Homo sapiens: one gene and its partner. The protein of the gene in region 1 interacts with the protein of each later gene in a biochemical or structural test. Each region holds a gene or a part of one and is shown in the gene's direction. Other genes may lie near its edges.

Evidence for each region.
Region 2: the proteins of NPPB (region 1) and NPR1 form a complex in vitro, tested with the Homo sapiens proteins (2 studies listed by BioGRID).

Annotation. Positions count from the first base shown.
Region 1 is NC_000001.11:11,856,933-11,863,312, reverse strand, and holds NPPB (natriuretic peptides B preproprotein), read left to right. Parts: upstream 1-4,367; 5' UTR 4,368-4,479; coding exon 4,480-4,611; intron 4,612-4,843; coding exon 4,844-5,099; intron 5,100-5,641; coding exon 5,642-5,658; 3' UTR 5,659-5,849; downstream 5,850-6,380.
Region 2 is NC_000001.11:153,688,654-153,694,492, forward strand, and holds the end of NPR1 (atrial natriuretic peptide receptor 1 precursor), read left to right. Parts: intron 1-299; coding exon 300-446; intron 447-534; coding exon 535-658; intron 659-799; coding exon 800-868; intron 869-1,051; exon of another isoform or gene 1,052-1,140; intron 1,141-1,152; coding exon 1,153-1,327; intron 1,328-1,630; coding exon 1,631-1,729; intron 1,730-4,452; coding exon 4,453-4,544; intron 4,545-4,698; coding exon 4,699-4,761; 3' UTR 4,762-5,339; downstream 5,340-5,839. UniProt on the Homo sapiens protein: Receptor for the atrial natriuretic peptide NPPA/ANP and the brain natriuretic peptide NPPB/BNP which are potent vasoactive hormones playing a key role in cardiovascular homeostasis.

The DNA of each region.
Region 1 (6,380 bases):
AAAAATTAGTTGGGTGTGGTGGCACGTGCCTCTAGTCCCAGCTACTCAGGAGGCTGAGACAGGAGAATCACTTGAACCCAGGAGGCGGAGGTTGCAGTGAGCTGAGATCGCACCACTGCATTCCAGCCTGGGTGAAAGAGGAAGACTGCATCTCAAAAAAATTAAAAAAAAAAAAAAAGAATCCCTGGAACAGAGCCACACCGTGAGTCAGCCACGGGCAGAGACGAGCCTGCCTCCTGCCTCCTGGGTCAGTGCTCCTCTGTTTCCTCCTTTGCTTCCCCCAGGTGCCCAGTGCTCTCATACCATCCACTTTGGCTGCCCAGGACTAGACTGGAGATTGAGGCCAGAGGGAAGCTACAGAAAAATCTTGCAGCTGGAGTCCTACTCTCTGACTAGTCAAACCTTGTATTCTGCACAGCTTCTTCCTTCTGCAGAGAGCATAGGGGTGGTAGCTGATCCATTAACCAGCCCTTCTAGCCTCTGCTTGTGCATCTGCTCTGCCCAGAGTGCCCTCCCCATCTTCCATCTTCCTTCTTGTGGCTAACTCATTCTTATCCTTCAAAGCCTTAGCCCAGCCCCACCTTCTCCAACAAACTCCCTTCTCGACTGCGCACTCCTGCTGTGCTCACAGAGCATCCAGGACTCACTGCCACTGTATCTGTCACTCACTGTGGCAGCCTGGGGAGCCTGTGATTGTGCCCACCTTTCCCCCTGCACTGTAAGCTTCTCAATGGCAGGGACTTTCTTGTCCGTTATGTATCCCCACCTTCCAGCAGAAATATTAGATTTTAACCTGCACAGTCTCATTTTATGCTCACAACAACCCTATGAGGTAGCCATGAGAAAACAAGGAGAGAGAGGAAGCAACTTGCCCAACACACAAAGGTAGCAAGAAGTTGATGTGAAATTGAGCCCAGACTGTGATTTCAGTCTTGGGTCTGGGCTACTGTGACCCCAGGGTCTCGGTGAAAGTTTGTTGAATGACTTAAGGGTCTTATTTCTTTCTGTGTGGCCAGATTAAGCACTTAGAGTTGGATGGTGGTGGGGAACCAATACTTCTACCATAACAACATTTGCTGAGGGCTTACTATGGGAGAGACACTATGCTTGGCATTTGACATATACTCTATTAATTTCCCATTGCTGCTGAAACAAAGTCTCACAAGCTTGTTGGCTTAAAAGAACATGATTTTATTTTCTTACAGTTCCAGACATCAGAAGTCTGAAATCTGTTTCACTGGGCTAAAACTAAGGTATTGGCAGGCCCATATTCCTTCTGGAAGCTCTAGGGAAAAATCCATTTCTTTGCCCTTTCCAACTTCTAGAGGCTGATTACATTCCTTGGCTCATGGCCCCTTCCTCTATCTTCAAAGCCAGCAGTGTAGTCTCTTCTCTCCTCTCTGACCTGTTCCCATCCTTACATTTTGTCCCTCTGACCTTGATCCTCTGGCTTCCCTCTTATAAGGACCCTTGTGATGACATTGAGCCTTCCTGAATAATCCAGGAGAATCTCTCCACCTTGAGGTCCTTAACTTAACCACACCTGCAAAGTCCTTTTTACCATGTAAAGTAGTATATTCGCAGATTCTGGGGATTAGAATATGGACATCTTTTGGGGACTATTATTCAGCTTACCACAGACATCATCAAATTTAATCCTTGTACATTAATGCTCCAACAGAGGTGTTATGATTAGCTTCATTAAATAGACTTGGAAAGCACATAGCATATGACAGGCCCTCGATAAATGTTGATGGGGCTGATCTGGTGTGAGAGTTAGTTGACAACATATCCTCCTCCCTGGACAGCAGGCCTTGGAGGATGTGTCTAGTTCTGTGTCTTCCTCAAGTCTTCTTCCACAGTCCCCTCCACTGGGGACAGATAGAAACTCTGTCAGAGTGTATGACACTTAGACACTTAATTGTCTCACTTGGGGTCACTTTGTCTCCCCAGTGAGATCACAATCTCCTTCAGTGTAAAGACCAACTCTCATGTACTACTAATTATTTGGCCCTTTATACAGTGCCACGGGCTTTTGCAGATATTATTTTTTTCCTTTTAGTCCTTGCAAGGACTGTCCATTTTGCCGAAGAGCAAAGTGAGGCTCTGGCGAGATGCAGAGTCAGTTTTTGATGGTGCTGGTTGATGAATCCTGCCTTGCTCTGAACCCTTTATCTCATGGTACTCAGCATGAGGGGCTTTCTGCACCCTCAGCAGCCTCTCGCCCACTGACTCCCCTCTGCACTTGGCTGAATTTTCTTACCTCTTTAGCTTCCTCTTAGCCTTTTGATACTCTTACTGTGGCATGCTCATGTGCACGCACACACACACACACACACACACACACACACACAAAACTACCCCAGCCCCCCAGAACATTTCCAGCACTGGTGTCTTTACACAGCCCTTACCCACCCACCTCCATTTATATTTCATCTGCAAAATGCTCATCTGAGCCACTTCCCATTCTTTCTCCTGCACACACAGTCACCACTAGAATTGCACATCCCCCACAGCACAGCTCCCAGAGCCTTCATAGATGACACGGGATTCACCTAAGCTTGCTTTTTGTAGAAACACCTTGTGATCACCCTGGCAGTGATTATGAGCTTCAGGTCTGGAATCAGACTGCTGGCTAGACTAATCAGACTGGTTAGAATCCAGGATTTATCATGTGTCAATTGTGTGACTTTTGGAAAGTAGATTAATTCATGAACACCATTTCCTCCTCTGAAGTGAGGAATAATAACCGTGCTTTTCTCACCTCAGGGGCAGATGCTATTTTTTAGGCAAGATCTGCTTAGAGGTCCCAGTTTCTTATTGCTGCCCTTCTCTGCTGTAACTCTTCTCCCCTCATAGACAGCTCCACTCCTCCAGCCTGCTGCTTGTTGACACCAATTCTCTGGAAGGGGAGTGACATCAGTCATATATGCTTTAGGGGGGTATTTAAGCTGCTATGACTCTTCTCAGGGGCATTTCTCTCCAAAGTCTCACTTCTAATCACCAGGCCACCTGCTAATGATAATTAGATCATGGGTGGTCAGATGAAGGAGGCACTGGGAGAGGGGAAATCCCCATATCTCTGGTATCCCAGCAAATAGATAACCATCATTCCAGCCATCCTTTTGTTTTCTTTCTTTCTTTCTTTCTTTCTTTCCTTCTTTCTTTCTTTCTTTTTTCGCTCTCTGTCAACCAGGCTGGAGTGCAGTGGCGTGATCTCAGCTCACTGCAACCTCCACCTCCTGGGTTCAAGTGATTCTCCTTCCTCAGCCTCCCGAGTAGCTGGGACTACAGGCGCCTGCCACCATGCCCAGCTAATTTTTGGTAATTTTAGTAGAGACGGGGTTTCACCGTGGTCTCGATCTCCTGACCTCGTGATCCGACCGCCTCGGCCTCTCAAAGTGCTGGGATTACAGGCGTGAACCACCATGCCCAGCCTATCCTTTTGTTTTCCATCCTGTGTTGGCTTGGTGGGGGAGAGGAGGTGTTGACACGTGGAGGACACACATATAAGGCATTCTTGGGTGACTTCGTCATCACTGGACCCTATCTCTCAAAATTCCAGCGAAATCTGCTCTTCCCTTTAAGGAGTGAAAGAAGGGTCAGCATTCCAGAAGTTCCTGGTCATACCCAGGCTTTTAATGAATTGCCACTGGGGAATCAGCATCCCGTTGCTGTAAGGACTATAAGATGGCGGATTGTGAGAGCATAGGGAAAGGTCTCGGAGGTCTCTTGTCCTTGCTCCACGCAGGTCTTTCTGGCCTGAAAATCCCGTTGAAGAGAGCAGCTCTTGAGAGTTTGCTCCAAGTTCCCTCGGGGTGATCAGCACCACGGACAGCGGCCAGGGCGCCCCCGAGGACCCGCAGGCAGGCAGGGTGCACAGCGGCGAGCAGGTGCTGCGCTACGTGCGGGCCAGGGAACTCGCGCGGGGAGGGGAGAGGCGCCGCGGGTGGCGGGGTCTTGGCCGGGGCTGTTTTCGCTGTGAGTCACCCCGTGCTCCCCGCGCTCACGTCGGTCCTCGGAAAGCCGGGGTCCTCCCTGCCTTTTCCAGCAACGGTGGGGTGGGGAGGCAGGAAGAAAGCGCCAACCTAGGACACCTGGACATTTGCAGGAAAGGAAGAAGCGGGAGACGGGGACTTGTCTGTGTCTCCAGCGCGTTCCTGCCCCCCGGCCCGACCCGGCCCATTTCTATACAAGGTCGGCTCTGCCCGGTCTCCACCTCCCACGTCGCAGGCGCGGAGGGGCTCATTCCCGGGCCCTGATCTCAGAGGCCCGGAATGTGGCTGATAAATCAGAGATAACCCTGCATGGCAGGGCAGGCCCGACACTCAGCTCCAGGATAAAAGGCCACGGTGTCCCGAGGAGCCAGGAGGAGCACCCCGCAGGCTGAGGGCAGGTGGGAAGCAAACCCGGACGCATCGCAGCAGCAGCAGCAGCAGCAGAAGCAGCAGCAGCAGCCTCCGCAGTCCCTCCAGAGACATGGATCCCCAGACAGCACCTTCCCGGGCGCTCCTGCTCCTGCTCTTCTTGCATCTGGCTTTCCTGGGAGGTCGTTCCCACCCGCTGGGCAGCCCCGGTTCAGCCTCGGACTTGGAAACGTCCGGGTTACAGGTGAGAGCGGAGGGCAGCTCAGGGGGATTGGACAGCAGCAATGAAAGGGTCCTCACCTGCTGTCCCAAGAGGCCCTCATCTTTCCTTTGGAATTAGTGATAAAGGAATCAGAAAATGGAGAGACTGGGTGCCCTGACCCTGTACCCAAGGCAGTCGGTTCACTTGGGTGCCATGAAGGGCTGGTGAGCCCAGGGGTGGGTCCCTGAGGCTTGGACGCCCCCATTCATTGCAGGAGCAGCGCAACCATTTGCAGGGCAAACTGTCGGAGCTGCAGGTGGAGCAGACATCCCTGGAGCCCCTCCAGGAGAGCCCCCGTCCCACAGGTGTCTGGAAGTCCCGGGAGGTAGCCACCGAGGGCATCCGTGGGCACCGCAAAATGGTCCTCTACACCCTGCGGGCACCACGAAGCCCCAAGATGGTGCAAGGGTCTGGCTGCTTTGGGAGGAAGATGGACCGGATCAGCTCCTCCAGTGGCCTGGGCTGCAAAGGTAAGCACCCCCTGCCACCCCGGCCGCCTTCCCCCATTCCAGTGTGTGACACTGTTAGAGTCACTTTGGGGTTTGTTGTCTCTGGGAACCACACTCTTTGAGAAAAGGTCACCTGGACATCGCTTCCTCTTGTTAACAGCCTTCAGGGCCAAGGGGTGCCTTTGTGGAATTAGTAAATGTGGGCTTATTTCATTACCATGCCCACAATACCTTCTCCCCACCTCCTACTTCTTATCAAAGGGGCAGAATCTCCTTTGGGGGTCTGTTTATCATTTGGCAGCCCCCCAGTGGTGCAGAAAGAGAACCAAACATTTCCTCCTGGTTTCCTCTAAACTGTCTATAGTCTCAAAGGCAGAGAGCAGGATCACCAGAGCAATGATAATCCCCAATTTACAGATGAGGAAACTGAGGCTCAGAGAGTTGCATTAAGCCTCAAACGTCTGATGACTAACAGGGTGGTGGGTGGCACACGATGAGGTAAGCTCAGCCCCTGCCTCCATCTCCCACCCTAACCATCATCACCCTCTCTCTTTCCCTGACAGTGCTGAGGCGGCATTAAGAGGAAGTCCTGGCTGCAGACACCTGCTTCTGATTCCACAAGGGGCTTTTTCCTCAACCCTGTGGCCGCCTTTGAAGTGACTCATTTTTTTAATGTATTTATGTATTTATTTGATTGTTTTATATAAGATGGTTTCTTACCTTTGAGCACAAAATTTCCACGGTGAAATAAAGTCAACATTATAAGCTTTATCTTTTGAAACTGATTTGTCTTGGCGCATTAAAAATAATCCCTCATTTCAAAGAAACCAACCCAACTAAAACCACAAAGCCCTGTGATCTCAAGGCATCTTCATGGTGGGATGAGGATGTGGCCTCAGAGGTAGCAGGCTTTCTTTTCTTTCAGAGTTTTTAATGCTCTGAAATGTTATTGAATATCTCAAGCACTTGAGGCACTTGGGAGAAACTGCTTTTCAAAGCAGGGCAGGATACGTGTGCAACCTGAGGGCACGTATCCAGCCGTTTTCTCCACTCGTCCTTGCTCTGCCTGGAATTCCACCATTAAAGCACTCTCCCTGGGGATTATTGCTTTCAGGTCTCAGCTAAAATGTCAACGACTGGGGGCAGTGTGTGTGGGTGTGGCTCATCTACATTCCCATACCGGGGTGAGCCCTCCATCCTGCCCCAAATATCAGCTTTGAAACTCCAATTCCTGGGGTCATCCTGCAAAGGAGCCTTCAAAACTCCAACCCACAAAGTGAGAGGGGTCTGGCAATCAGCCCA
Region 2 (5,839 bases), about 140 Mb from region 1:
CGCAATTGACCCTTGTCATTCTCCACCTCCTTTACCTCCTTCTAACTCACTGGGTTCAACAAAGATGAACAAAATGTCCATATGTCTGAAGCTTCATACTTGACCTTGGGGTCTCAGAAAAGAATTGAACTTTCTTCCTTCTGTTTTCCCCTGCTCCCCGGTATCCTGCTATGCCCTCAACCCTGAGCGTCTCTAGAGACCTCACTGCAGTCTGGAGGGGGAAGTGCCTAGGGGCGGGCGCTCACGGTAGGCTGTGCTGCTCCTCTCTTACCACCCCCACCGCCACCCTCTGCCCCCAGGGAGAACAGCAGCAACATCCTGGACAACCTGCTGTCCCGCATGGAGCAGTACGCGAACAATCTGGAGGAACTGGTGGAGGAGCGGACCCAGGCATACCTGGAGGAGAAGCGCAAGGCTGAGGCCCTGCTCTACCAGATCCTGCCTCAGTGAGTGCCTGAGTCTGGGGACCCCCCCCAACACAAAGCCCCTGTCCCGACCCCCAACTCTGATCCTGCACCTGCCCTGACCCCTTAGCTCAGTGGCTGAGCAGCTGAAGCGTGGGGAGACGGTGCAGGCCGAAGCCTTTGACAGTGTTACCATCTACTTCAGTGACATTGTGGGTTTCACAGCGCTGTCGGCGGAGAGCACACCCATGCAGGTAGGCCAGGGTTCAGCCACAGGTGCCAGGCAAGCTCAGCATCTGGATCCCACCAGACCTGCCTTCTGGTTCTGCTTTACCCACCTGACCCCAGGTGGGGTCCCCTACTTCCTGTCTCTCTTAGCTTCTCTTCCCTTCCAGGTGGTGACCCTGCTCAATGACCTGTACACTTGCTTTGATGCTGTCATAGACAACTTTGATGTGTACAAGGTGAGGGTGGGAGTGGGGATGGGAAGGGACAGACAGACATGGACAAGGTCAGAAAAAGATGAGGGGTAGGCAGAATGATGTGGAGTCTTAAGAGAGGAGATCGGGGACACGGGCAGAGACAGTGACACAGGGAGACCCGGGAACAGGCAGAGAACCCATGTGGGATGGGGGATGAGCAAAGACAGATGAGGGTACAGAATGACAGACGCTGCACCCGGTGTGACGGTGTGGCCGGCCGCACAGTTGCAGCCGTCAAGTCCTGCACCCCCTCGCCACTCCCACAGGTGGAGACAATTGGCGATGCCTACATGGTGGTGTCAGGGCTCCCTGTGCGGAACGGGCGGCTACACGCCTGCGAGGTAGCCCGCATGGCCCTGGCACTGCTGGATGCTGTGCGCTCCTTCCGAATCCGCCACCGGCCCCAGGAGCAGCTGCGCTTGCGCATTGGCATCCACACAGGTAAGGCCACTGAAGGTGCAGGCGGGCATCCAGAGGCCAAGGCTTCGCAAGGGAAACTTGTCCCCTGGCCCAGCCCCTCGCCCTTTCATCTCTCTCTCTCTCTCTCTCTCTCTCTCTCTCTCTCTCTGTCTCTCTCTCTCTCTCTCTCTCTCTCTCTCTCTCACACACACACACACACACACACACAGAGCTGGGACCTCAGATCCTGCCTCCTGCCTGTCTTGGATTGTCCACCTACCTCCCTTAACACCCCTCCCTCCCTCACTCGCTGATGGGCTCTGCTCCTTCCCTTGCTCCTCCCAGGACCTGTGTGTGCTGGAGTGGTGGGACTGAAGATGCCCCGTTACTGTCTCTTTGGGGATACAGTCAACACAGCCTCAAGAATGGAGTCTAATGGGGAAGGTACAGTGCCCCCTCCTAGAGGGAATGGGGAGGGCAGGGTGGCTGAGGGAAATGCCATCCTGGGGCAGCCTGTGCCTGCACAGCCCGTTTCAGCTCCTAGCCCTTTCGCCTCCCAAGTTCCCCTTCTCATAATATTAAGAGTTCAACCTGGGCTCATCAACTTGACTGTAACCAGAGACTCAGGTTCCTGCTGCCCCTCTTGTCAAACGATGTAAAAGTATTTCCGGGCCAGTGCTGGAGAGTTCCCAGCAGGAATCTGATTTTAAGACCCTCTGTGGGCCGGGCGTGGTGACTCACACCTGTAATCCCAGCACTTTGGGAAGCTGAGGCAGGCGGATCACCTGAGGTCGGGGGTTCGAGACCAGCCTGACCAACATGATGAAATCCCGTCTCTACTAAAAATACAAAAAACTAGCCAGGTGTGATGGCAGGCTCCTGTAATCCCAGCTACTTGGGAGGCTGAGGCAGAAGAATTGCTTGAACCCGGGAGGCAGAGGTTGCGATGAGCCAAGATTACACCACGCACCCCAGCTTGGGCAATAAGAGTTAAACTCTGTCTCAAAAAAAAAAAAAAAAAAAAAAAAAAAGACCCTCTGCTCCACCTTTGATGTGGTAAAGATGGCTTCAGAGCCAGCATAAGTGAGGCTGTGAATCTCAGCTCCACAGCTGGCTGTGTGTCAGTTTGCTATACCTCTCTGAGCCATGGTTTTCCTCATCTGTAAAAAGAGGGAAAAAATCTATCTCACAGGAATTATGTGAGAAACCCATTAAAAATGTCTACCACATAATTGTCATTTAACTTTTCCAAGCCTTAGCGGATTATCTGTAAAATGATGTCTATCTCAGGATTGCAAGAAGCCTAGCACAAACCCTGGTACCCAGCAGGCACCTAATAAATTCTTACTCCTACCCGCCCCTTGCTCTTGCCTCCTGTTTATCTTCTATCCTTCTGCTGTATTCGACACAATTCAATGCAGTAAACATTTATTGAGTGACTACTGAGTGCCAGGCCCTGGGATAGTAACATGGCCCAGATCCAGAGTTAGCTGAGAAATTCATGTGGACCCCATCTAAACCTTATGGTGAAAGAAAGGCTGCTTGGGAGCCAGTCCTGGGAGCCCAGAGGGATCTAGTTCGGCAAATATTCCCTGGGCACTATTTTGGGGGCTGTCAGAGTACAGCCCCTTGTTGAGGGTCCAGTCCTCAAGGAGCACATTCCCAGAAATTGTTCAACATTCTGGGCGCTGGGGGTGCTTGTAATCCCAGCACTTTGGGAGGCCGAGGTGGGCAGATCACTTGAGGCCAGGAGTTGGAGACTAGCCTGGCCAACATGGTGAACCTCCTGTCTCTACTAAAAATACAAAAAATTAGCTGGGCGTGGTGGCACGTGCCCGTAATCCCAGCTACTCAGGAGGCTGAGACATGAAAATCACTTGAACCCAGGAGGTGGATGTTGCAGTGAGCCGAGACTGCACCCCTGGGCAACAGAGCGAGACTCTGTCTCAAAAAAAAAAAAGAGAGAAAGAAAGAAAAGAAAAGAAAGAAACTGTTAAACACAACAAGGCCACTGTGATTGATGCAAACCCCAGAAGTAGGGACATGAGTTCAGACAGTGGTCAAAGAGAGGGTGTGGCAATATTGGGCCCCACTCCATCACTGACCTCCTCAGCCACTTGGGCAGATCACCCTGGGCCTCAGTTCCTCGGCCACAAAATGAGGGTATAGCATGAAATCATGAAAGCAACAATTTACATAGTGCTTCCTAGGTAGCACATTCCGTTTGAATACTTTATGGATGTTAAATTTAATCCTCACAACAAGGTTTTGAGATGGGTACTGACACTATCAGCATTTTACAGATTAGGAAAATGAAGCAGAGAGAATTTATTTTACATACCTAAGCAAGTATCCAAGCTGAGGTTCATACTGAGGCAGTGCAGGATCCAAAGTGCCAGCTCCTAACCACCATGCTGTGTAGAGCCGGGTGACACTCCAGAGAGTGCTGTCCAACAGGATGTTCCATAGTCATGAAAATGTTCTGTATTCTGTGCTGTCCAATACAGTAGCCTCTAGGCACATATGGCTACTTATCACTGGAAATGTGACGGGTGCAACTGAGGCCCTGATTTTTTTTTTTTTTTTTGGAGACAGAGTTTCGCTCTGTCGCCCAGCCTGGATGGAGTGCAGTGGTGCAATCTCGGCTCACTGCAACCTCCGCCTCCCAGGTTCAAGCGATTCTCCTGCCTCAGCCTCCCAAGTAGCTGGAATTACAGGTGAGTGCCACCACACACAGCTAATTTTTGTATTTTTAGTAGAGACGGGGTTTCGCCATATTGGCCAGGATGGTCTCGAACTCCTGGCCTCAAGTGATCCTCCTGCCTCAGCCTCCCAAAGTGCTGGGATTACAGGTGTGAGCCACAGCACCCAGCCTGAATTTTTAACTGTATTTAGTTTAAATTAATTTAAGTTGAAACAGGCACATGTGATTAGTGGCTACTGTATTGGATTACACAGCTCCAGAGTTCTAAATGAGAGGCTAATGTGGTCACGCACTACATTCAGGGGGTGGGGCCCCTCTGAGCTAGAGGGCTTCCTGGCCCAAAAGAGGGAGAGAGGGTACCTGTCCACCTGTCCACCCCCACAGTCCCTGGTCTCTTTTGCCTCTACTTTCCTGCTCTCCTCTCTCACATTGCTCACCTTCCCTTCTCCCCTGTCCTACCCAGCCCTGAAGATCCACTTGTCTTCTGAGACCAAGGCTGTCCTGGAGGAGTTTGGTGGTTTCGAGCTGGAGCTTCGAGGGGATGTAGAAATGAAGGTAGAGGGAGAAGCCTCTGCCCTCCCCACCTTTTGGGGTCCTAGAGGGAGTTACCCTTCTCAAGCAGCCAATGCCACTCCCATCCCTAAGGCTCTCATCTGACTGGGGAAAGGGCATGTGCCACTCCCCAGCCCATCCTCTTTTTTCCCTCCAGGGCAAAGGCAAGGTTCGGACCTACTGGCTCCTTGGGGAGAGGGGGAGTAGCACCCGAGGCTGACCTGCCTCCTCTCCTATCCCTCCACACCTCCCTACCCTGTGCCAGAAGCAACAGAGGTGCCAGGCCTCAGCCTCACCCACAGCAGCCCCATCGCCAAAGGATGGAAGTAATTTGAATAGCTCAGGTGTGCTGACCCCAGTGAAGACACCAGATAGGACCTCTGAGAGGGGACTGGCATGGGGGGATCTCAGAGCTTACAGGCTGAGCCAAGCCCACGGCCATGCACAGGGACACTCACACAGGCACACGCACCTGCTCTCCACCTGGACTCAGGCCGGGCTGGGCTGTGGATTCCTGATCCCCTCCCCTCCCCATGCTCTCCTCCCTCAGCCTTGCTACCCTGTGACTTACTGGGAGGAGAAAGAGTCACCTGAAGGGGAACATGAAAAGAGACTAGGTGAAGAGAGGGCAGGGGAGCCCACATCTGGGGCTGGCCCACAATACCTGCTCCCCCGACCCCCTCCACCCAGCAGTAGACACAGTGCACAGGGGAGAAGAGGGGTGGCGCAGAAGGGTTGGGGGCCTGTATGCCTTGCTTCTACCATGAGCAGAGACAATTAAAATCTTTATTCCAGTGACAGTGTCTCTTCTTGAGGGAGAGAGGGTTGCCAGAAAACAGTCAGTTCTCCACTCTCTACTTCAAATAAGACTCACTTCTTGTTCTACAAGGGTCTAGAAGGAAAAGTAAAAAAAAAAGACTCTCGATTCTTAAGCTGGGAATGCAGGCTCTGAGAGTAGTAACAGCCTATGAATTGCCCAGCAGTGCTGAAACTGGTTTAAGGACCCATTTACATCCTTAAGAATTATTATTATTGGCCGGGCACAGGGGCTCATGCCTGTAATCCCAGCACTTTGGGAGGCTGAGGTGGATGGATCACCTGAGGTCAAGAGTTCAAAACCAGCCTGGCCAACATGGTGAAACCCAGTCTCTACTAAAAATACAAAAATTAGCTGGGTATGGTGGCACGCGCCTGTAATCCCAGCTACTCAGGAGACTGAGGCAGGAGAATCTCTTTTTTTTTTTTTTTTTTTGAGACGGAGTCTCGCTCCTTCGCCCAGGCTGGAGTGCAGTGGTGCC